Homo sapiens: one gene and its partners. The protein of the gene in region 3 purifies or fractionates together with the protein of the main gene of each other region. This does not show direct contact. Each region holds a gene or a part of one and is shown on either strand. Other genes may lie near its edges.

Region 1 (3,111 bases), on a different chromosome or scaffold from region 3:
CTGCTGGAAGCGTCGCCGCCCAATGAGTCCATACACCTTGCCCTGCCCACTTCGGTCCAGCAACATCAGCCCGTTCTCCGTGCCCACCAGCAGGTTGACCCCTGCAACAGGAGCCCTTGGGCAGGTCAGAGGCTCAGCCAGGCCCTCACCTAACCAGGAGCACAAGAGCCACGCCAGAGCCTCCTCAGCTGTCCCTGCCCTGGCTTACCCCAAAGGGCTGCACAGAGGATCTCGGAGTTGAATCGCTTCTTGTACTTCCGGATCTCAGGGGTCTCACTGTGGGCCCGGGTGTTGGTGGGATTCACGTTGACCACAGAACCCTTCCTCACGTCGTACTGCAGCTGGTCGAGCCGAGTGCCCTCTCCACCCACTAGGGCTGCCAGAAGGAGGAGGAGGTGGGAGGAGGGGCTGCAGCTTCTCACCCCATCTCTTTTTACCTCCATCCCCTATATCAGGTCTTGGCACCTCATAATACGCAGAAAGGAGGAGAAAGACAGGAGGAGAGGAGGTGCATGGGAGAGGGGGATAGAGTGCTGGACTTGGAGTCAAAAGGTCTGGCTCAAGTCCCATTTCTGTCACTTGTTAGCTTTGAGTCTTTGCCCAGGTCCCCTGGCAACTCTGAGCATTTCCTGTCCTGTGGGACAGGAAGGAGGGGTCTCAGAGGCTCTTCCTTGCCTCTGTGCCCAGGCAGGTGCTAGGGCCCAAGGGAGAGGTCCTGTGGCTATGCTTTGTGAGGCTGCGTCTCAAGACCACTGTGCTCCCCTCCAGGCTGCCCCTGGACCCTGGCCTCACAGCAGGTCTGTCCTCCTGTCCTCACCTGTGATGGGGATGCTGTCCCCACTGCCTCCAGGCTGGTAGATCCCTAGATCCACAAACATCGTGAACGAGCTCTTGCCAGGGGCCTTTACCAGCCCACGAGACTGGTACTGTGGTAGGGGGACAGCAGTCAGGCAAACAAGTGCAAGTCCAGCTGCGGCCCTGCCCCTGCTGCTGTTCCCCAGGCTCCAGCTCCCCAACTGGCACCCCCGCTGTCCAGCTCCCAGCGCTCCGCCCCATCCTCTGCCGTTACCCAGCACCGGGACCTCCTGCCCATCGCCAGGGCTCTTCTCTCCCGGCGGACCTGCCTCCGGCCCACTTACGTCACCACTCCCATCCTTCGAGGGTGGGCTTTGGCCTTTGCTGTTCTCGGTGGGTGAGTGGCTGGGCTGGACCACGTCAGGCAGGTTTGTGTACCCATTGCTGTCAGCATGCAGCAGGTTCCGCTCCTCTTCAGGGGTCTACAGGACAGAGGGCAGGGTTGGCGTGGGGCTGAGGAGGGCACACACAGGTACAGGGGAGGGAGCAGAGGCTCACTCACGCGCTGGACCACCATGGTGCCGCCCCCGTATGGGGGCTGGGTCCCGGTGATCTCCTCGACGTCGTGGACCACCATGGTGCTGACGCTGTCTGTATCCCCATCGCTGCTGTGAGAGAGGAAGGTGGGGCCCCTCCAGGTCCTGCCCGTGGCCACAGAAGTGCCAAAGGCAGCAGATGGCAGCCAGAGCCCAGGCTTTTGTCTCTATTCAAAACACAACCTGCTCCACCCTCACGGTGTAGCCCCTGCTCCACCGTGAGGTGCTTCCCTGCATGGCACACAGGGCAGGCTGGCACAGGGGCAGACAGGCACTTGAAGAGGCCACCCCACAACACACAGGGCAGCGGGAGAGAGACAGGAACCTGCACCCTCACCCCACTCTCTAGAGAAGGGAGCCGCTCTCCCTCAGACTTGCCCCAAAGCCCCACCTCTTCCCCACTGCCACTTCCCCTCCCTCCCTGTGCCTTGGAGTGGGAGGGCCCCACTCCCGATGCCGTACCGGCCCCCAGGGGTATCTCTGCTCCCCTCTGCTGGCCCGCCTTCGCCTTCCTCCTCGTCGTCCTCACTGCTTTCCACCTCCTCGCTGGACGACGAGTAGTCCATGGCCTTCTTGGGAGGCCGAGGGGCCTCGTCCAGAGTCCGCTCTTTCAGCAACACAAAGTCCTGCAGGGAGGAGCCACGTGAGGGGCAGGGAGAAGCTGGGCCTGGGTGGAGGTAGACAAAGGGTGCCGGGACACCCCAGCAGGGCGACAGGAGGGGCTCCCACAAGCAGGCCCATCTCACTAACCTCACCAATTGCTCGCTTATAGCTCTGGGAGGGGCCGCAGGGGAAGAAAGAGCCAGAAGAGAGGTTAGGAGAGAGGTTAGGAGAGAGGTTAGGAAAGGTTAGCACCATGAGAAGCACCAGTCCCTCCATCCCCACAGCCCTTCTCGGTAGATCAGCGGAGACCCCACCCCTGACACCCAGCACCCTGAGGCTAAGCCCCAAACCAGGATGAGGCAGGCCATGCCTGCCACCAGGTGACTCACTGCGGGCCGGCCTGGCCGTGAGCGGTGGTCGTCGGGCTTGGCTTTATTCCCAGGGGAGAGCACAGGGGAGCTGTCCGGTTTGGAGGAGACTGGACGGCAGGGTGGAAGAAGGTCACTGATGCCTGAACAAGGGATGGCCTCAAGCCCACACCCTGAGCCCCAGAACTCAGCCCCAAGTTCCATACCCACACAGGTCCTCCCTGTCCGTGTGGGTGCCCCAGTCCAAAGCCACCAAAGGCAGGGTCCATGGTGATAAGCCCCCAGGCCCAGAGCAGGCTGCCCAGCCCTGGCTCACATACCTCCCACGCGGTTCCGCTCCAGTGAGCCAGCCTGGGGGAGGTGCCCGTGAGAGGCTGGAAGGACGCTGTCCGAGCGTTCCCAGCCAGGGTCGCTCCTCCTGAGGTCGGGGTTACTGTTGGGGGGGCAGAGTCAGGGTCAGGGAGGCACGGTGCTCCCTTCTCTGGGGTGCTGAGCTGCACTGCAGAGGGAGCCATCACCAGGGAAGCGGGTGGCAGAAGTGAGAGGTGAGAGTGAGTTGGGGGACAACTCTATTACCTAGAGGCGTTGGGCGGGCCAGGGGGCTGAGCAGGGGGCCCTGGAGGCTTTGGGGTGCCCCGCTCTGCCCGCCTTTGCAGATAGATTTGCCAGGCGGAGTTGCTGCGAGGTCTGTGAAGGGAGCACAGGGGTGCCGAGGGGGCGGCGGGGGGGCGCTGAGGTGATGGGGCTGG
Region 2 (3,500 bases), on a different chromosome or scaffold from region 3:
TGGCCAACATGGCCAAACCCCATCTCTAGTGAAAAATACAAAAATTAGCCAGGTGTGGTGGCACATGACTGTTGTCCCAGCTACTCGGGAGGCTGAGACAGGAGAATTGCTTGAACGCGGGATGCAGAGTTGCAGAGAGCCGAGGTCGCACCACTGCACTCCATCCTGGGCAACAGAGCGAGACTCCATCTCAAATCAATCAATCAATCAACCCTCTTAATTTTTTTTCTACCTGTGGCCACCTCTCCTCTTGTCTGATTTTCAGTTATTTCTGACTAGTGAAACACAGTTGCATCAGTATCAGGGCATTGATTGCTCAATTGAATAAGTCATTTACTGGCCTTTTCTTGTATGTCAGGGGCTGTTTTGGTTTGAGCATGGAGCTAGCAGAGCGAAGGACTGAGGCTTGCTTAGGATTGGGGGTGCAGTATACACCCAACTGCCCCGAACCCTAATCAGCTTGTGTGGTCACAAAATAAAACACTTGATAAAATGGGAAGTGCAGCGGAAACTCAGCTTATACCTCCTAGGAAAATTAGTCACCGTTGTGCAGTCAGTCACATGGCTGGATGCTGGAATGTGCGGTCCCTCCTTCCACCTTGAGCCTCAGCTTCTGCATGCCAAGGTTAATACGCAGAGTCTCCTGTGAGCCATGTGAGGAGGTAGCCCTCCACGAGGTTGGGGAGAACGTAAGTGGAACTTCTTAGCTGAGGAAGATGGCACATTTACTCAAGACTCAGAAGACGCAAGTGACCAAAGATTAAGACGCCAAATCACAGGCGCGCGGGCAGGGTTGTGCGGCTGTGCTTGGCTGCATGCGGAAGATGAGGTTGTGCTCTGACTGAATAAGGAAGGCAGCTACAATTACAGCTTTAGAAAAACTCTGGGGAAAATTGCCCTGGTTTTGTGAGGACTGGTATTTTTCAAACTGCATTTGCAGATGTGCCTAAAAATAAAAACAAATTGCGAACATGTCCTGCAAGTCCCTTGGGCAGGATGCCACTGCCAAGGGGGCTGGGTCCTGAGACCCTTGAGGCTCCCAGCCGGTCCTGTGAACCCAGAGACCCGCGGCACCAGAGTGGATGGCATGGGAACATTCCTCCTGTCCTCAGGGAGAGCATTTTATTTGGTTTCATCCCCCTCCCTCCAGTTTCTATGTTTCATTGGAAAGAAAAGTTACTAAACCTTTTTAATCTTTTAAGCCATTTTATTTAATTTGCAGTTCTTAAAAATTCACTATTAAAATGTACTTTAGGCTGGGCGGGATGGCTCACACCTGTAATCCCAGAACTTTGGGAGGCCAAGGCAGGTGGAACTTTGAAGCCAGGAGTTCAAGGCCATCCTGGCCAACATGGTAAAACCCCGTCTCTACTGAAAATACAGAAATTAATCAGGCATGGTGGTGCCCACCTGTAATCCCAGCTGCTTGGGAGGCTGAGGCAGGAGAATCGCTTGAACCCAGGAGGCAAAGGTTGCAGTGAGCCAAGATTGTGCCACTGCACTCCAGCCTGGGCGACAGAATGAGACTTTGTCTCAAAAAAATAAAAAAATAAAATGCACTTTAAACATCTTTTCCTTAAAAAAAAAAAAAGAAGCTTTATAATAGGTAACTTTGAGTGCTATGTGTCAGACACTTTCTCCTTTGTAGTTTTCACAAAAACTTTTTGAGGTGAGGTAGATGTGTCCAGCTCCTATTACAGAATACAGCTTGGATGGGTAGGTAAACAGCTGGCCTGGTGTTAGATGCTAAATATTTTAACTCGGTTAAAAACCTTTTTGGGCTGGGTGCAGTGGCTCATACCTGTAATCTCAGCACTTTGGGAGGCCGAGGCGGGTGGATCAGCTGAGGTCAGGAGTTCCAGACCAGCTGGGCCAACATGGTGAAACTCTGTCTCTACTAAAAATACAAAAATTAGCCGGATGTGGTGGTGCATGCCTGTAATCCCAGATACTTGGGAGGCTGGGGCAGGAGTATCACTTGAACCCGGGAGGCAGAGGTTGCAGTGAGCCGAAATTGTGCCACTGCACTCCAGTCTGGGCGACAGAGCGAGACTCCGTCTCAAAAAAAAAAAAAAAAAAGCCCTCTTTGAAAACTGGGCTGGGTTAAGGGTCAGGTGTGGTGGCTTGCATCTGAAATCCCAGCACTTTGGGAGGCTGAGGCCGGAGGGTTGCTGGAAGCCCGGAGTTTGAGACCATTTTGGGCAACACCTGGAGACCCTGTCTCTACAAAAAATAAAAAATTAGCTGGGTGTGGTGGCGTGCACCTATAGTCCTAGCTACTCACAGGCTGAGATGGGAGAATCATCTGAGCCCAGGAGTTCAAGGCTACAGTGAGCTCTGATCATACTGCTGCACTCTGCCTGGGTAACAGAGCAAGACCCCCATCTCTGGGGAAAAAAAAAATGAAAAAACTGGATTAAAAGCCAGGGTTTCATGCAGTTCCATCTGACTCCAAAGTTTAGTAAAGAATTCCATTTTTTGGAGGGTCACCTGCACTAATTCCTGCCTTGGTCACAGACTGGCCCATCTGGCTTGTTGACTTGCTCATGCACCTGCACCCAGCTCACAGCTTAGCAGGAAGAGGGAAAGAAAGCTGGGAGGTCATGGCCCATTCCTCAGTCCCAGCTTCCTTGGAAGGCTGGAATGAAGCTCTCATGCCGGGAGTCTCCTGAAGTCCTTCCTACTCCCTGGTCTCAGCTGCATCCCTTGGGCAGCACAAATCACCCCACCCCCGCCCCGTTCCCTATCTGCACAAGAAGCAGTGCTGGTGGGGACTGTGTGGGTTGACATATGTAACACTTAGAACATGAAGCCTGTGCCACATGAATACTAACTACTGTCCCCCTCTTCTAGGTTTAATTTTTAGAAGTCAATGTCACCTGTAGCAGAGAAGTTCCTTGAAATCAAATCAGACATATGGCAATTGTGAAAAGATTGAAGTAAGGTTTAGGTCTTGGTTAAATTTTTAAAATCCTTGAGTTTGTTTTGTTAATGACTGAGCATATTCTCTCCACTTTACCTTTTGTGTGTGGCAGGGGCCACACAGCCACCATCCCTATTGTTTCAGGTTCCAATCACATTCCTGTTCTGGGGCCCACATTCTCAAGGGAATCTTCTGGTAGTGAGAGTTTGCTTCAGTTTGCATCTGGAAACAGCTCTTAGGGGTAAGGGGGATTTGCCCCTGAGTGGCATGAGGTCAGGGCTGCTGGGGCCAGGTCTTCCTGGACTGGCACCTCAGCACAGTGGCGAGGACATCTCTGATCTAGCAGGGTAAAATCCGGAGTCAGCTGGCTGGAATTTGAACCTCCAGGTTGCAGGAAGCCCAAGTACTTCCCATTTCTGGGCCTGCCGCTTGTCCTGTGTGACTCCCCGGCCCACAGGCCTCTGGCAGCTCTGATTAGGCTCACGCTGCTGTCCCAAAAGACCTGGTCTGTCTGCTCTCTCCACAGCAACTGACTATTCAAAGAACTTGATAGAAAGGTACCCCGGGCCACTCCCAG
Region 3 (3,500 bases):
TATATATATATATTTAAACAAATGAAGTCATAATAAAATTTAAAAATGCTAAGGATCTGGCCCCACAGGCCCCAAAGCTTTCACAGAGCTCCTCTTAGACATGAAGATGCCCATTGGCCTCCTAGGTCCCAGGAGGTGTGGGCAGGACTGCCCTTCCTCCGTTCTCATTGCGGGGCTCCTGAAGGGGGTATCTGAAAGTATGTAAAACTGATGGGAGGTCTGATCCTCCTTTTGCTAGCCCCTGAACTCTGTGGTGGAGTCTGGCTGATGGCCAGGGCCATGTCCTAGAGGGGACTCCCCTGCAGGAGGCGGGCTCTAAAGGGAGTGGTGTCCCTTTAGGCCAGGGTTCACAGTCGGGGTGGTCTGGAGACTGCAGGACTCAGGGCCTGGGGGTGGCATCAGTCTGGCCAGGCCCTGCGTCACTTGCACCCACCATCCTTCTACTCCAAGGCAGACTTACTCGGCTATACACAGTCCTGCCTCACCCCCTTCCATCTTAGGGTTGCCTGGGACATAGGGGAATGGCAAGCTGCTCCCATGGCGCAGGCCTCCGTGCTGGGATGCTGGGCATCCACAGAGCCTGAAGGATCGCCTGGGCTGGGCAGGGGTTTGATTGGAGGGTCTGGACCACCCCCAATCCTTTCAGCTCCCATTCTCAGCCTGATTCTGAGACCAAGACCAAAACCTCAGGGCAAAGCCTCAGCCAGTCCTGGCGTGGCCCTAAGCAGACCTGAGATCTGTGCGAGGAAGTAGGCAGCCACTTCCATGGGGCTAAAAATTAGGGCCGTAGACAGGCTCCTGGCCACCTTCACCAGGTGGGCAGCCTTGGAAAGGAGCCCAGTGGTCCCCACTCCGTCCCGATGTCTCCACACCCAGCCCCTGAGCCCATCTCAGCAGGTCCTGAACAAAGATGAGGTTACAGCCTAGAGGTACCAGGGCTTCATCTGGGGCATGGCCAGCACAGGGACAGCAGCTGAATATCCTTGGGATAATAATGACAATTATATTGCTCACATTTATTGAGCAGGTCTCTATGCTACTTCTATGCCGAATACTTTTTATAGCAGCATCTCATTTAATCACCACAATAACCTGATGAGACAGGAAGTATTATTACCCCATTTTTCTTTTTCTTTCTTTCTTTTTTTATTTTTATTTTTTTTATTTTTGAGATGGAGTCTCGCTCTGTCACCCAGGCTGGAGTGCAGTGGGGCGATCTTGGCTCACTGCAACCTCCACCTGCCAGGTTCAAGCAATTCTCCCACTTCAGCCTCCAGAGCAACTGGGACTACAGGCATGCGTCACCACGCCTAGCTAATTTTTGTATTTTTAGTAGAGACGGGGTTTCACCATGTTGGGCAGGCTGGTCTGAACTCCTGACCTCAAGTGATTCGTCAGCCTCAGCCTCCCAAAGTCCCGGGATTACAGGCGTGAGCCACTGTGCCCCCACCTATCCCCATTTTTCAAATGAGATGACTGAGGTTCAAAGTAGTTCAGTACCTGCCCCAAAGCCACAAAGCCTGTGCTACTCTGCCCCCAAGAATTAGTGATTTCCAGGCTGTGCCTGGCTCTGCTAGCTAGCAGCTGTGTGACCTTGGCAAGTCCGTTTGCCTCTCTGAGCCTATCTACCTCCTCTGTATAATGGGTCTGGTAGTCTTCACCTACCTCACCAGCTGCTGTGGAGCTCCGACGAGATGGTGACTGTGAAAGCACTTGACAAACTGAAGGCACTGGACATGCCTTGTGGTCAGTGTGGCCTCAACCCAGATGTCCAGTGATTTCCAGGGCACAGGGGCTTTGAGTGGGATGGCCAAAGAAGACACCTCCATCCAACTGGGAGCCACCCCTGGGTCACAAACACTCCATTGCTTGGTCCCTCGCAGTAGCTCGAGGTCAGAAGTTGACTGCAGCTTGATTCACAGCCCCTCGCTCAGAGCAGGGAGGTGGGACTGGCAGCACAGCAAAGACATCGCTCCTTGGGGGCCTCCCTGTTGCATATTTCAATTAAGGCAGGTTTACAGCCCCCCAGCGTCTGTCCGGAGGGGGCCTGAGCAGCAGGCCTGGCAGCACCCACTGCTCCTGCCTGAAGAGGTGCTATCCAGCCCCGGCTGTGGACATACAGTGAGATTGTACAGGCCGGTCTGGAGCAGCTGCAGGGGATATGATCTGGATAAGACTGAGCAGACCTAGGAGGCTCTGCAATGTAGAGCTTATTCCTCAAGCTCATGGTGAGATTGGAGCCCTAAAGAGTTAGCCAGGGTGCAGCCACCAGTGTGGAAATCCAGGGATGGCGCAGGCCATGGCCAGCTCTTCCCAGCTCACGTCTGAGAACCAAGGGTCTGAGCCCCTCTATCAGCCCCAGGAAATCCTCAGCCATTTGGTGCTGATCAGCGATAGGGCTCTGGTTCACAGGATGAGTGCCAGGGGCTCCTCTGGGGAGAGGGGCCAGCTGCATTCCGCCCCACCCTGAGAGTGAGAAGGGGGCAGTCCCCGACCAGGAATGGGCCTACCTGGTGCTAAGAATGGACATAACAGTTCTCCCTCTGAGGCTTGCATTTCATCTGTCATGGCAAGAGCACTTTCAGGCTCACAGTTTCTCATCTTTTCAACAGTCAGGGAAAAGAAACCTATGGAATAGTTCGCATTTCACAGAGGAAGAAACTGAGGGCCAGAGCTAGGGGTCTCTGACACAGCCATGGGATCCTGCACCCCACACTGGCTCTATGTGACTCTGTAGTAGTGGCTAATGTCCATCAGTCGCCCCCTGCTCCCCTGCCTGGCCATTTGCCCCCAAATAGGGCAGTGGTGGGAGTATATCCTGGAGGAGGGGGAAGTGGGATATAGGTAGTACTTGGCTGACTTCACAATTTTGCTACACCCAGTCTGGACCTCCTGACAGTGGAGTGGGATCCCTGTGGCTTCCTTTTTCTTGTTTTTGTTTTGTTTTGTTTTTTTTTAGATGGAGTCTCCCTCTATCATCCAGGCTGGAGTGCAATGGTGCGATTTCAGCTCACTGCAACTTCCACCTCCCAGGTTCAAACAATTCTCCTGTCTCAGCCACCTGAGTAGCTTGGACTACAGGCACCCGCCACCACCCCAGCTACTAAGTTTTGTATTTTTAGTAGAGATGGGGTTTCACCACATGGCCAGGATGGTCTTGATCTCTTGACTTTGTGATCTGCCCACCTTGGCCTCGCAAAGCACTGGGATTACAGGCGTGGGCCACTACGCCTGGCCAATTTTTTTTTGTTTTGTTTTTTTGAGATGGAGTCTTGCTCCATCTCCCAGGCTGGAGAGCAATGGCGTGATCTCAGCTCACTGCAACCTCTGCCTCCTGGGTTCAAGCGATTCTCCTGCCTCAGCCTCCCAAGTAGCTGGGATTACAGGCACCCACCATCATGCCCGGGTTAATTTTTGTATTTTCTTAGAGATGGAGTTTCACTATGTTGGCCAGCCTCATCTTTGAACTCCTGACCTCCGATGATCCACCTGCCTTGGCC
Region 4 (3,500 bases), on a different chromosome or scaffold from region 3:
AACACCTAATCTGTTGTGTATGCACTCAAGGGTCTCCTTGCATTTTCTTACGCATGTGGCTGACTTCTTTTGTCAACTAATTATTAAAACAGGGAGAATATTTCCAAGGCACCTCATTTAGAGACAAATCCTTAAGATTCAAAGTGTGACAGTCTCAGAATAGTTTCATGCCAAAAACTGTAGTGCAAAGATAAGTTCCTTCAGTTGTTTTCTACTTTTTTCTTTACTTGTCTTTAAATCCTACTATTCTTATTGTCCTGCTAGAATACTGCTTTTTCATAGGAGAAGAGAAGGACATTTCCTGCAGGAAATAATACCAAAAAATTAGAAAACAAGGTTTCTTCTTCTTCTTCTTCCCCATTGGAATCCCTGAGTTACTAATTTGACAAAATCAGCTTTTACTATAAAATAGGGATAAAACAATTTACACTTCATTTGATTCTTAATTTGAGACTTAATATGCACAATATTGTATGACATGATTTAAACTCTTATCCTCTAAAGATAATGCTAGTACAGTCAGGTTGAAAATTCAGAAAGCATCCATTGCAAATAGTCTTCTAGTTTGTATTTTAAACTTTCTCCTTAATGTCTTCTTAGTCCTCGGAGACCTTCCTTCAAGGAGAAAGTATCCACACCTTGTAATTATCTGCATTTAACAGTACCTTCATTTTATGGGCACATGTCCCATATACTGTAGAGCAATGCTGTACTAATAGTTTTAGCTTTCAATATTTAACCCAAACTTCAGATTACATACAATAAGGTCCTAAATTATCTGCACCTGCAAATTAGCTTTAGGATTACCAACACAATTACCTAGGATTTCCTCCTGCTTTGAAATTTCATTGTCACTGTTTTCAACAATCAACTGAGGCATTGGGGATGACATATGACATTTTCTTGGGAAAGCAAATTAATGACCTGCATTGTCTCTCCAGACTCAGGGGGCAGGCTCTCCCCGCTCCTCCCCCAGCCACACCATCAGCAGGCCAATTCCCATGCCCATCCGGTCAGCGTCAGCCTGCTCCACCCCGACGCACACGCCGCAGGACTCCCTCACAGGAGTAGGGGGAGATGTACAAGAGGCATTTGCACAAAGTAAGTGGCTTTATTTTTTGTTGTGGTCTGCTTTTATGTGGCAAATAGGTCACCAAGGTCTATTGAGTGGTCAAGAGTTGTCAGAACCACATGTGACTATTGTAGGGTCTTTCATGGCTGGTGTCAGAGCCTGGCCTGCCAGCCATTTTGGGAACTCCCTACACCAATTTGTTCTCACTTCACGATTTTACCTTCCTTTGGCTTTTGTTGCCCTGCCTTATTTTTTAGTAAGTCTTTGTTCATCAAAAGACAGGAAATCTTTTCACCAATACCCCCAGAAAACTTCATAAATGTAATCTATTTTTTTTAATTCTTAGAGATTTTCTTATCTCATATTGTCTTTTCTTTATATTAAAGTCAAGACTGAGATAAGTAATCACAGCTCTTTAGCAATGAGGTAACCAAGAAGGACATTTAGTCATTTGACAGATTCCCTGTTCTGATGCCCCGAAGAGTTGAATCATTGCCTCTGTAAGGCAGGGCTACAGGGTTAAGCCTCTGCAGTTAGAGGAGTACAAAGAGGGATGGGGATGCCAGCCAGCACTTTCCCATGACAGGGAGAGTAACTTTATTAATTTAGAAATATTTTTAACACTTTTTAAAACCTCTTCTTACTATCACTTTTTAAATTTATAGAGAATAATAATAAAAAAATCATTCTGTAGACCTTCACCGGCAGCTTTCATTCCCAGAAGTAACCACTATTAACAGTTTGATCCTTCCCAAAGTTTTGCTTTTGTGTAAATAGATATGTTTAAGGATGTGATTATAGACACATACTCTTTTTTTCACACAAATAGGATCATGCATTGCATTTTGGGGTCTGCAATTTGCATTTTCTTTAAATTAGCAATATATCATTAACATTCTTCGAAGTCTTCACATAGAGATCTAAGGAAAAGAGAGACATGTTTGAATATGGGTTTTAAGGCAAAAGAGATCATAAACAAAGTTAAAAGACAGAAAACAGTCTTGAGGAAACCATTTCCAGTATATGTGTCAATCAAGTTTCATAATTTCAGTTATACAAAAATCATGTAGAGATCAGAAAGAATAGACACCACCAAAACAAAAACAGGTGAAATATACGAATAGACAGAAGAACAAAGAGAAATTGCCAATAAATATATGAAAAGATGTTCAACCTCTAATTACAGAAATATAAATTTTAATAAGTATCACTTTTTGCCTAGAAGATTAAAAAAATGTTTTGAAACATCATAATATCCAGGGATAGCAAAAGTGCGAGGAAAAAGGTACTCTCGTCCATGTAGAGGGGTGATAAAATCTTAACACACTTCAATGAGAGAGAATGATGAACTCTCTACTCTGAGGGAAAAGGAAGGATCTATATTAGAACTTTTTCTTCTAGGCACTGAATATAACTCAAGAGTTTTTAAAAATGTAATTCACAAAATAACTTTTAATTTTTAGAAAGAAAATATCCCTTCTCTTAATCATATTTTAAAGAAATGTACTATATTTTAAATCAATTTGTGATTTCCATTATAATTAATGTTTTTACTTAACTACTCTGATTTTTTTAATTTAAACATTTATTATTTTATTTAGTTAGTATTACTTTCTGAAAAATGACGGAATGAAATTCCATTAACCCTTAGTGTGCCTGAAACAAAATAATAATCTTTCTCTGCCATAAAGAAACATAGTCTAAGTTCCAATTTATAGTACCAGACATGCATCTGCCCATGTCTTGGCAGAAGAAACAAGAATCCTCACCCCTTTCTCACGCTCTGGGGGCATTCAGTGCATGTGGGTTTCCCATTCCCAAGTGGTACTTACACTGGCAGGAAGAGCTCCAAGAGCCCTGATAGGAGACAGCGCATGTCCTAGTAGAGACCAGAATCTAAAGGGCTCAGCCACCAGGTAAGGGCAAGAAAAATAATAGCAGCTAGGAAGGCGCAGCTCTCCTGGAAAACCTGATTTTTCATCTGTGTGGATTATTCTTAAGAAGGGTGACCACACGCACTGGTTTACCTGGAACCATCCCAGTTTTGCCAGGTCAGCCAGCCTTATTCATACTGCTCTCTTTCACCTTCAAAATTGTCCCCATATGGACAAATAATATATGAAACTCCATCATTAGCCATGTCTTCTTACTGCAGGACCCACTGCCCTAAGCAGTGTTTTGTTGTTGTTGTTGTTCTTGTTTCAGGAAATGAACTAAAGCACTTCTGAAAAGGAGAAGTCTTAGAAGTTTTCTTGCTTTAGGTTATTAATGGGAAGGATAAATAAACAACATAAAAATTTAGGATAGAAGGAAGCTTTGGTTTTTTAAATTATTTCTTCTTCCCTGAAGGTTCAAGAAGAAACTTAAGGAATGACTTGCTAGTGGCTGCAGATTCCATCACTAACACTATGTCCTCTCTTGTGAAAGA
Region 5 (2,459 bases), on a different chromosome or scaffold from region 3:
CAGAACAGTAATGAAATATTTGAAGTACTTGTTGCTGAAAATCATGAACATGGACACAAATTCTACCTCTGTCAACTTTTATTTAAATCAGTGAATATGTTAAAAAGTTTGGTTTAAAAGAACTATATCTATATGTATATTTTCATATATATGACAGAACAAGAATATGTATTAATAGTGCCTAATGTATCTATATTTTTATTATTCATGAATTAAATTACTAAAAGTATGTTTATACTGTGAATTAATATAATGTATTCACATTATTCTTTAATAATCTGTTTATTAATAAGCCATGATATGTGTATGTAAATATTCTTACAGTACTTGTTTTTAGTTGTCATGCCTATGTTTAGACCATATCTTAATGTATTCACAAAGAATTATCAACTTTGATGCTATGCTGTCATGCTTAACTTTTTCTTCTTAAAATTATTCATAGATCTACTGTCTGTTGTCAAGGGGAATATATTCAGGTCTAGTCTTCTTATAATAGCAGAGGTCTTGGTAAAATAACTACCATATATAACGTGTTATTGCCATCTAGAAGAACTATGATGAGAAAGATACATTTATATATTATGTAAAATGTTAACTATCATCATATGGACTCTATGTAACACAAATTCAAAAGCAAACTAAAAGCTATATGCAGAGTTTTGTATAAAACAATAGAACAGAAATTTGGGACATTTTTCTAGGAAATAAAATTCCTCGGTGTATTAATCTAAGGTTTCAAAGTATAAAAGTATATGGGGTAGGCCGGGTGCAGTGGCTCACGCCTGTAATCCCAGCACTTTGGGAGGCCGAGGCGAGTGGATTTCCTAAGGTCAGGAGTTTGAGACCAGCCTGAGCAATGTGGTGAAACCCCATCTCTACTAAAAATACAAAAATTATCTGGGCTTGGTGGCGGGCACCTGTAATCCCAGCCACTTGGGAGGCTGAGGCAGGAGAATTGCTTGAACCCGGGAGGTGGAGGCTGCGGTGAGCCAAGATCATGCCATTGCACTCCAGCCTGGGTGACAGAGTAACACTCTGTCTCAGAAAAAAAAAAAAAGAAAAATATATGGGGTAAATACAGTAAAACGTTTTGTTAAATTCCAATATACATTCAGTGATACCACTCTTTTTCTTCTAAGCCTGTGTGTTATAATTTACCAGTTCCCCAAAATGCCATTTTTAACGCCGAACTGTGTAATATACATGGAAAACAGCTTTTTACAATTAATTTTCAAAGTTGTAATTTTAAAGAATTTGGGTGTATACCTATGTTAATGAAACAACAGAAGTACAAAAAAGAATATCAGATACAAAAATCAATCGTGAAGAAAATCTGTTCTTAATATATTTCATTATGATTGAAAAACATAAAAACTAACATAGGAAAGTGAATGATCAGTTACTTATGATATATTTTGTTTCCTCTTGTGGTTTAATAAAGTGAAGTGTGTGTGTGTGTGTGTGTGTGTATACCTGGGGGTGGGCAGTGCTCTTTTTCTAAAACTAATATGGCTTATATATCTGAATTATGCCCTTTTTAGTGTGTATTAGGATGTGGGCTGGTTTGCTTTTCTACCACCTTTGTAATTTTATGTATCCCATCTCCTTTGTGTGAATTCATATATTATAGCAAAATACAAGAGACATGGGACTGTTTGCAATACCATATGGAAATCTTTTAATAAATATATGTAAATAAAATAAAAAATATTTGTCTCCACCTTTTCCCCAAAAGCAACAGCAAGACATATTTTGTTAGATATTTTATTTTTAATGTTTTCTATAATTTAAAAATGTATAGCCTGCCAAATGTTGTTTTCATAACCATGATATTGTTTTGAAAAAATTTTATCTTAAAATACTGAATGTTCTGACCTTTTATAGATGTTTTTGATTTTGTTTTAAATAATTTTAAATTATGGAGCTTGACCTAGATTTGCCAATAAACTTTCTAGCCTATTTATTTTCTCTTTCTTACAAATAAGGTTTTTATAATTTTATATTAGGGATACTCTTAATTCTAAAATTAAGTAAAGTTTATTCAAATCAAACTTTATCATGGTGGGATATGGACAAATCCCTGAACATAGGTGCCAGGCACCTTTCTTAACTGACTTTTATTTCCATTTAGTTCAAAATAATAAGAAATGAAGCCAAAGTTTATTTTTGTTATCTGTCCACAAAATGGTTAAACGTGTGTGCGTATGAATATACGCTCTTCTCACTTGCAAATGCTCTTTGTTGAGCACATTGACTCCCATTAGACTATGACACCTGTTGCCGTACCTTATTGTAATTCATCATACAAGTGATCTCATACTTCTCTCCCTAATTCTTAGAAGACTTTAGCAAGTGGCTTACTATCTTTCTACCATTAGTTCTATTATCAGCCTTTTTATATCAGTATCTTCTTGGGCCAATGGTTATTGACTATACCTGCACATTGTAGTTATCTGGAG
Region 6 (3,500 bases), on a different chromosome or scaffold from region 3:
TAGTTAAAATTATAAGACCTAATTATGAGTGATCAAATTAAATTCATTATGGACAGTCTCAATAAGGAGCCCTTTAGGAAGAACTATAATTTAATCACGTTTGATTCCTTGGAGCCAATGCAACTATTACAAGTTCTCAGTGATGTTCTGGCTGAGATTGACCCAAAGGTAAGAGTTTTCTCTTTCTTTTTGATGGGTAGCAGAAAGCCAATTTCTCCCTCTAAATAGCTGTGAGTCTTGGGCACATTATTTAACCTCTCTGAGCTTTATTTTCCATGTCTGTAAAGTAATAGTAAATAATGCATAACATTTCTCTGCTAGCTCAAAAATAAATTATCTATTGGTACCTTATTTCAAAATTATTTATCCACTTCCAGACATAAATAGGTTTGGTTAGGGAATGAAAATTCTTTTACAAAAGGTTTTATTGTATTGCAAGTTAGTTCATGTCTCTCATACACTGGTCCATTCCACTGGATACTTTTTTTGAAGCTTAACATTCTTAATGTGAATCTTGATCTGACTTGGGTGTACCCTCACTTGGAATCTGGGGGCCTCCATCCTTAATCTGTTTTATGAAGAGACCATTGTGCTGTTAAGCTCTAGCAGAACAATTTTGTCAGTGAGTTTAAATATTGTCCTTTGTTACATATACAACAATAACATGTTTTTTTCAATTTCTTTGTTAGCAACTTGTGGATATCAGAGAGGAGATGCCAGAGCAGACAGCCAAACGAATGTTGAGCCTTCTTGGTATTCTTAAGTACAAACCTTCAGGAAATGCCACAGATATGTAAGAATCTGATCACGTATTGAGTTTTTAAAATTATGCTTTAATATCCAAACCTTCATATACTGCAATCAATCTTTGTAGGTAATACCTGGTTTCCCTCATTTGATGGCCTGAGAACATCACTGAGTTTCAAAATAATCTTAAACCTTCTATAAACAAACTCAGAAGTCTTAAGAGGGTCAGTTCTTTGCCTTAATCAAACTGTCTGGTAAATCCACTATACCATTTTATCCTTTATCTGCCATCCTAGATAAAAACAGCTTAAACACAACTTCCTTGGATATGCCAATGATATATTGAGGGCCAAATTTTTCTAATTTTCTAACTAATGTACAGACTGACTTTAGAATAGCCTTGGGGCCAGGCATGGTAGCTCACACCTGTAATCCTAGCACTTTGAGATGCCAAGGTGAGAGGATCACTTGAGCTCAGGAGTTTGAGACCAGCCAGGGCAACATGGCGAAACGCTGCCTCTACAAAAAATACAACAACAAAAAATCAGCTGGGCATGGTGGTTGGTGCCTCTAGTCCCAGCTACTTGGGAGGCTAAGGTGGGAGGTTCACCTGAGCCAGGAGGTTAAGGCTTTGGTGAGCTGCGTTGTGCTCAAGCCTGGGCAATAAAGTGAGACCCTGTCTCAAAAAAAAAAAAAAAAAAAAAAAAGATTCCTTGGGTTTATCTTTTTTAAAAAGTTACAGAAAGCAATTTGGACATTGTAAATCAGATTTTGAGAAAATGCTGTCTCTCTTCAAAGTTTACCGTTAAGTGCGTGTGTGTTTGTGTATGTGTGTTTCTCTCTTAGGAGTACTTTTCGTCAGGGTTTGGTGATTGGAAGTAAACCTGTAATTTACCCAGTGCTCCACTGGCTTCTTCAGAGGACTAATGAACTGAAGAAAAGAGCATATTTAGCTCGTTTTTTAATAAAACTTGAGGTACCAAGTGAGTTTCTTCAGGATGAAACTGTGGCTGACACCAATAAACAGGTAAACAATACATAAATGGTACATTGAAACTGTAATGGATTTCAAGGTGTATATATTCAAATACATGTTACTCTTTTTTTATTTGCTGTCTTTGTAGTTCCAAGTGGCACAAGAAGATAAAACTGTATCAGCTAATGTTCAACTATGGCCACATCTCAAGATAATGGCTTTTGCACACAAATACTGTTTTAGTGATAGGAGTATGTGAATAGAAAAAAAAAAAACCTGATACTAAGATTTTAGAATAATTTATTACTTAGCAATTGTGGGTAAATAGAATCCTGGGTTAAGTCTGCACAGCACTTTGTTCATCAGTAAGGTGACTACATAGTTTTTTATCCAAATTTGAGAGAAACAGACTATCATAACATTTAAACACCAAGACAAATGGTTTAAATTGACACTATCCCAGGCAAATTGGGACATGTGAGGTCCTGGAAAGAAGCAGGCAAAGAACCTAGGCTTGCAGTCTCAAAGCACTTCCCAATCAGACAAAGGGTAGAGATAGATTCCGGAGTTTGAAATCTCAGTGCACCTTTCTTGCCAAGGTTTTGGAGTAACATTGGGCTCTGGCATAAGGTCTTAAAGCTCTTGAGTACTGAGGATTCTGGCTGGTCTGGCTTCTGATCCTGAGATCCCTAAGCACATTGCTGGTCAAAGACTGTGGAGAGAAAGAAACTAGACTCAGATTTAAAAGGACTTTGATTTTTTTTTTTTTTTAAAAAGTGCTTCTGTTTAGTGTTTCACACTTTTATTCCATAGCACTTACATAGACTGATTTGTGCCAAATTGTTGTGAATAGTTTGTCAATCTGTCTTTCCCAATAAATTCTGAGGCCCATAGAGACAGGTGCCATGTCTTATCCATCTTTATTTTCTTCCAGATTTTGTATAGTCACTTCTAATGTTAGCTCAATATTTGGATTGAATCGCAGTAACCAACTGAATATTTTTATTTTTATCCATATATTTTGCTATTTGGGGTAGACATGGCAGTAACTCAAAATAGAGTCAATATTGATCTCTTAAGACAGTATTTATGCAAATAATTATGTCAGATGTCACAGTAGATGCCATGGGAGAAGCACAGCAGAATGAGACCACCTGTCCTTACCTTTGAATATTTTACACAATGTGGGAAATAGAGAAGTGTAAATGTGTACTTTCTCCTTCCTAGGCTCCCACCATCGATAAATCTGATAAAAATTAATTTATCTAGAGGAAGTTGATTAAGTCTTTTTTTTTTTTTTTTCCGAGACAGAGTCTTGCTCTGTTGCCCAGGCTGGATGGAGTGCAGTGGTGCAATCTCGGCTCACTGCAACCTCCGCCTCCTGGGTTCAAGTGATTCTCCTGCCTCAGCCTCCTTAGTAGCTGGGATTACAGGTGCCCACCACCACACCCAGCTAATTTTTGTATTTTTAGCAGAGATGGGGTTTCATGATGTTGGCCAGGCTGGTCTCGAACCCCTGACCTCATGATCTGCCCACCTCGGGTTCCAAAGTGCTGGGATTACAGGCGTGAGCCACGGTGCACGACCTGATTAAGTCTTTGCTAAATATGCTCAGCTAGTTGATGAAAGAATTAATGGTAATAAAGACATACTTGTTCTTGAAGCATATCTGACAGGTATCTCTCTCTATATATATGTATATACATATACATATATATATAAAATGAGAAAGAGATATACACACACACAATGATTTACAATATATAATGATTTACAC
Region 7 (3,500 bases), about 33 Mb from region 3:
CTTGAATTCTGGGTGTGAGATCTCTTCCCCACCATATTCCTGTGTGTCACTGGCTCCCATTCGTTTCCCCCTTCAGTGATGCTCCTGCGGGCTGTCCCAGGTGGGGCTGGAGATGCCTCAGTGCTGCCCAGCCTTCCACGGGAAGGACAGGAGAAGGTGCTGGACCGCCTGGACTTTGTGCTGACCAGCCTTGTGGCGCTGCGGCGGGAGGTGGAGGAGCTGAGAAGCAGCCTGCGAGGGCTTGCGGGGGAGATTGTTGGGGAGGTCCGGTGAGTAATGCGGCTTCTTCTCCTGCTTTATCCCTCCCCTGCAGCTTTTCAGCTGGGGTGTGTTCTGGCCTTCGCTGTCTGTCTCTAAAGAATAAACCAGTTCTATAGCTTCTAGCCTAATCTGGGTTGAAGCTGTACATTTGGTACCTCGCCTTGCACATGCTCCTTGCTGCTTCTGGACTCTCATGGTTGATCTGTTGTAGCAGCTGAAGCGCTCTGTTTGCCTAACCTAGTCTGTCTGTGCGGGCTGGGCCCAGGAAGCTGCCCTGCTTGCCCTCCTGAGGGTTAGAGACTTAGGATTTTCTCTGCTTTTAGCCCTTTAATGAGGAGCAGTAGTAAGAGGCACCCCATGGTGAGCAGAAAGACAAGCTGGATGGGACCTAATGGTACCCTTCGGGATGGGGCCTGCTTTCCAGATGCCACATGGAAGAGAACCAGAGAGTGGCTCGGCGGCGAAGGTTTCCGTTTGTCCGGGAGAGGAGTGACTCCACTGGCTCCAGCTCTGTCTACTTCACGGCCTCCTCGGGAGCCACGTTCACAGATGCTGAGAGTGAAGGGGGGTGAGTTGTCTCTCTTGGAGGCAGTTATGGCTACAGCCAGGTTGTGTTTTGTAAAAGTATTATCAATGGAAAATTCAAACCAAGCTGCTGCAAATGATTTTTGGAACAGGTAAGAGTATAATAAATACAGAAGAGTTGAAACAAAAAACCCATCCAATTTATGTCATTCAGACAAATGTAGATGTTAATAGCAGTTATTGCTTGCATCTGTTATCTTAGTTTATTACATAGTTATGATATATTATTTGGGCATTTTTCTGTGTTATCACAAGGACTTGATAAGCATTGTTTGACTTTGTTCCTTTCCTTGGGTGGCTGAGCTGGTATACGGAGATGTCTAAGCACGAAGCATGCTCCTCCCTGGGAGTCACCCTCTTCCCACAGGGGAGCCTTGCCTGTGATCCTTTGCATTTTTACAGGTGGGAGGTGGATGTCCTGAGTTCTCAGTGGCCCAGGAGGGCTGACGATAGGCCTTTCTGTGAGGCGGGGCAGCTGGCAGGAGTCTGGTGGACAGCCTCCTCCAAGTCTGGTCATGCTAAGGGTGTTTTGAGTTTAAACCACTAGCACCACTTTGAAACTCTGGTCCCAAGGATAGAGTGTGATGTCAGTAGCAGCATCTGACCCATCTGACCTTATCTGCTGCTAGCTCCAGTTATTCAGGTAGCCTGTGTGAGGCCTAGAGGCCGATTTCTCCTTGTCCAGCCTTTATTCTTCTTAAGGGAAAGACTGGTGTAGAGAACAGCCAAGTTTTATGCTGGATCAGAGGAATTAGCTATAAGCAGGTACATGGAAACTAGAAGTTAAAATCAGTCCAGGTGTGGTGGTGGCTCATGGGTAATCCCAGCACTTTGGGAGGCCGAGACAGGAGGATTGCTTGAGTTCAGGAGCTTGAGACCATCCTGGACAAGGCAGCAAGACCACGTCTCTACATAAAATAACTACCTGGGGGAGGCCAAGGTGGGCGGATCACCTGAGTTCAGGAGTTTGAGACCAGTCTGGCCAACATGTCGAAACCCTGTCTCTACTAAAAATACAAAAATTAGCCAGGTGTGGTGGTGCATGCCTGTAATCCCAGCTAATCGGGAGGCTGAGGCAGGAGAATTGCTGGAACCCAGGAGGCAGAGGTTTCAGTGAGCCGAGATTGCGCCACTGCACTCCAGCCTGTGAGACAGAGTGAGACTCCATCTCAAAGAAAAAAAAAAAAAAAAAAAAAAACGAGCTGGGCATGGTGGCATGGGTCGGTAGTCCCAGCTACTTGGGAGGCCGGGAGTTTGAGGATGCAGTGAGCCATAATTGTGCCACTGCACTCCAGCCTGGGTGACAGAGTGAGACCCTGCCTCAGAAAAATAAAATACAATGTAAATACTAGGTGATAGGAATTTTTCAGCTCCATTATAATCGTATGCACCCACTGATATGCGCAGTCCGTGGTTGACTGAAATGTCATTATCACCAACGCTGGATTTGATGAGTGCTCCGGGGTCTCCAGAAACCTGTGGAGTGGTGGTGAAGAGCTCTCTGCTCTTCCATGGGGGACTGCTGTTGCCTGGGTTGTCAGATCCCTGTTATCTGCATTCTCAAGGGCAAACAGAGGTGGCCCTTTTCTATTCAATTTACCTAAATGGCTCTGGGCCAAGAGATGCTTCCAGAAGTTGTGTTAAAGAGGGGGCAAAAATGAAATTAATATTTGATACATCTGAATTGAAGAGAGAGACCGAGGAAGTAGTTGATAGTGGGCACTGAGATGTAAAGAACATCTCTGCAACCCAAGGAAGCAGGCCACTTGGGTGGGGAATTGATGTTTGAACTCTGTAAGGAGGTTGAACAGAAGGAGAGGTCACAGCTCTGCCCAAAATCAAAGAAAGCTTGAGGCCCTTCACAACTGTTTTTGTTTTTGTTTTGTTTTGTTTTGAGACAGGGTCTCACTCTGTTGCCCAGGCTGGAGTTCCATGGTGCCATCACAGCACAGCAGCCTCAACCTCTTGGGCTCAAGTGGTGCTCCTGCCTCAGCCTTCTGAATAGCTGGGACTACAGGCATGTGCCACCATGCCCAGCCAATTCTATTTATTTTTTTTGTACAGATGGGGTCTCACTGTGTTGCCCAGCCTGTTCTTGAACTCTTGGCCTCAAGCAGTTCTCCCACATCAGCCTCCAAGTGCTGAGATTACAGGTATGAACCACCGCACCTGGTCCTCTTTGTGATGATTTAAAGAAGTTGTACTAGGCCAGGCGCGGTGGCTCAGGCCTGTAATCCCAGCACGTTGGGAGGCCAAGGCAGGTAGATCACCTGAGATCAGGAGTTCAAGACCAGATGGCCAACATGGTGAAACCTCGTCTCTACTAAAAATACAAAAATTAGCCAGGCATGTTGGCAGGCACCGGTAATCCCAGCTACCTAGGAGGCGGAGGCAGAAGAATCACTTGAACCCAGGAGGTGGAGGCTGTAGTGTGCCAAGATGGCACCACTGCACTCCAGCCTCGGTGATAGAGCAGTACTCTGTCTCAAAAAAAAAAAAAATTACTGAGGCTGGGGTGTGGAGGCTCATGCCTATAATCCCAGCACTTTGGGAGGCTGAGGTGGGCAGATCACTTGAGGTCAGGAGTTCGAGACCAGCCCGGCCAACATGGTGAAACCCTGTCTCTACTAAAAATAGAAAAATTAGCTGGGCGT

What was found.
Region 1: the proteins of INSYN1 (region 3) and MINK1 purify together in Homo sapiens (affinity purification with mass spectrometry; one large-scale study listed by BioGRID and IntAct). This does not show direct contact.
Region 2: the proteins of INSYN1 (region 3) and BEND3 purify together in Homo sapiens (affinity purification with mass spectrometry; one large-scale study listed by BioGRID and IntAct). This does not show direct contact.
Region 4: the proteins of INSYN1 (region 3) and DTNA purify together in Homo sapiens (affinity purification with mass spectrometry; one large-scale study listed by BioGRID and IntAct). This does not show direct contact.
Region 5: the proteins of INSYN1 (region 3) and CEP135 purify together in Homo sapiens (affinity purification with mass spectrometry; one large-scale study listed by BioGRID and IntAct). This does not show direct contact.
Region 6: the proteins of INSYN1 (region 3) and IFT81 purify together in Homo sapiens (affinity purification with mass spectrometry; one large-scale study listed by BioGRID and IntAct). This does not show direct contact.
Region 7: the proteins of INSYN1 (region 3) and RMDN3 purify together in Homo sapiens (affinity purification with mass spectrometry; one large-scale study listed by BioGRID and IntAct). This does not show direct contact.

Annotation. Positions count from the first base shown.
Region 1 is NC_000017.11:4,892,340-4,895,450, reverse strand, and holds part of MINK1 (misshapen-like kinase 1), read right to left. Parts: intron 3,050-3,111; coding exon 2,939-3,049; intron 2,796-2,938; coding exon 2,683-2,795; intron 2,473-2,682; coding exon 2,384-2,472; intron 2,166-2,383; coding exon of another isoform or gene 2,142-2,165; intron 2,018-2,141; coding exon 1,854-2,017; intron 1,464-1,853; coding exon 1,358-1,463; intron 1,278-1,357; coding exon 1,140-1,277; intron 927-1,139; coding exon 818-926; intron 377-817; coding exon 209-376; intron 116-208; coding exon of another isoform or gene 102-115; coding exon 1-101. UniProt on the Homo sapiens protein: Serine/threonine kinase which acts as a negative regulator of Ras-related Rap2-mediated signal transduction to control neuronal structure and AMPA receptor trafficking.
Region 2 is NC_000006.12:107,105,516-107,109,015, reverse strand, and holds part of BEND3 (BEN domain-containing protein 3), read left to right. Parts: intron 1-2,853; exon of another isoform or gene 2,854-2,939; intron 2,940-3,500. UniProt on the Homo sapiens protein: Transcriptional repressor which associates with the NoRC (nucleolar remodeling complex) complex and plays a key role in repressing rDNA transcription.
Region 3 is NC_000015.10:73,736,352-73,739,851, reverse strand, and holds part of INSYN1 (inhibitory synaptic factor 1), read left to right. Parts: 3' UTR 1-3,500. UniProt on the Homo sapiens protein: Component of the protein machinery at the inhibitory synapses, probably acting as a scaffold. Inhibitory synapses dampen neuronal activity through postsynaptic hyperpolarization.
Region 4 is NC_000018.10:34,874,298-34,877,797, forward strand, and holds part of DTNA (dystrobrevin alpha), read left to right. Parts: intron 1-941; coding exon 942-1,101; intron 1,102-3,421; coding exon 3,422-3,500. UniProt on the Homo sapiens protein: May be involved in the formation and stability of synapses as well as being involved in the clustering of nicotinic acetylcholine receptors.
Region 5 is NC_000004.12:56,031,403-56,033,861, forward strand, and holds the end of CEP135 (centrosomal protein of 135 kDa), read left to right. Parts: 3' UTR 1-1,959; downstream 1,960-2,459. UniProt on the Homo sapiens protein: Centrosomal microtubule-binding protein involved in centriole biogenesis. Acts as a scaffolding protein during early centriole biogenesis.
Region 6 is NC_000012.12:110,127,357-110,130,856, forward strand, and holds part of IFT81 (intraflagellar transport protein 81 homolog), read left to right. Parts: intron 1-3; 5' UTR 4-24; coding exon 25-168; intron 169-689; coding exon 690-793; intron 794-1,593; coding exon 1,594-1,774; intron 1,775-3,500. UniProt on the Homo sapiens protein: Component of the intraflagellar transport (IFT) complex B: together with IFT74, forms a tubulin-binding module that specifically mediates transport of tubulin within the cilium. Binds tubulin via its CH (calponin-homology)-like region.
Region 7 is NC_000015.10:40,748,755-40,752,254, reverse strand, and holds part of RMDN3 (regulator of microtubule dynamics protein 3), read left to right. Parts: intron 1-76; coding exon 77-269; intron 270-584; exon of another isoform or gene 585-685; coding exon 686-829; intron 830-3,500.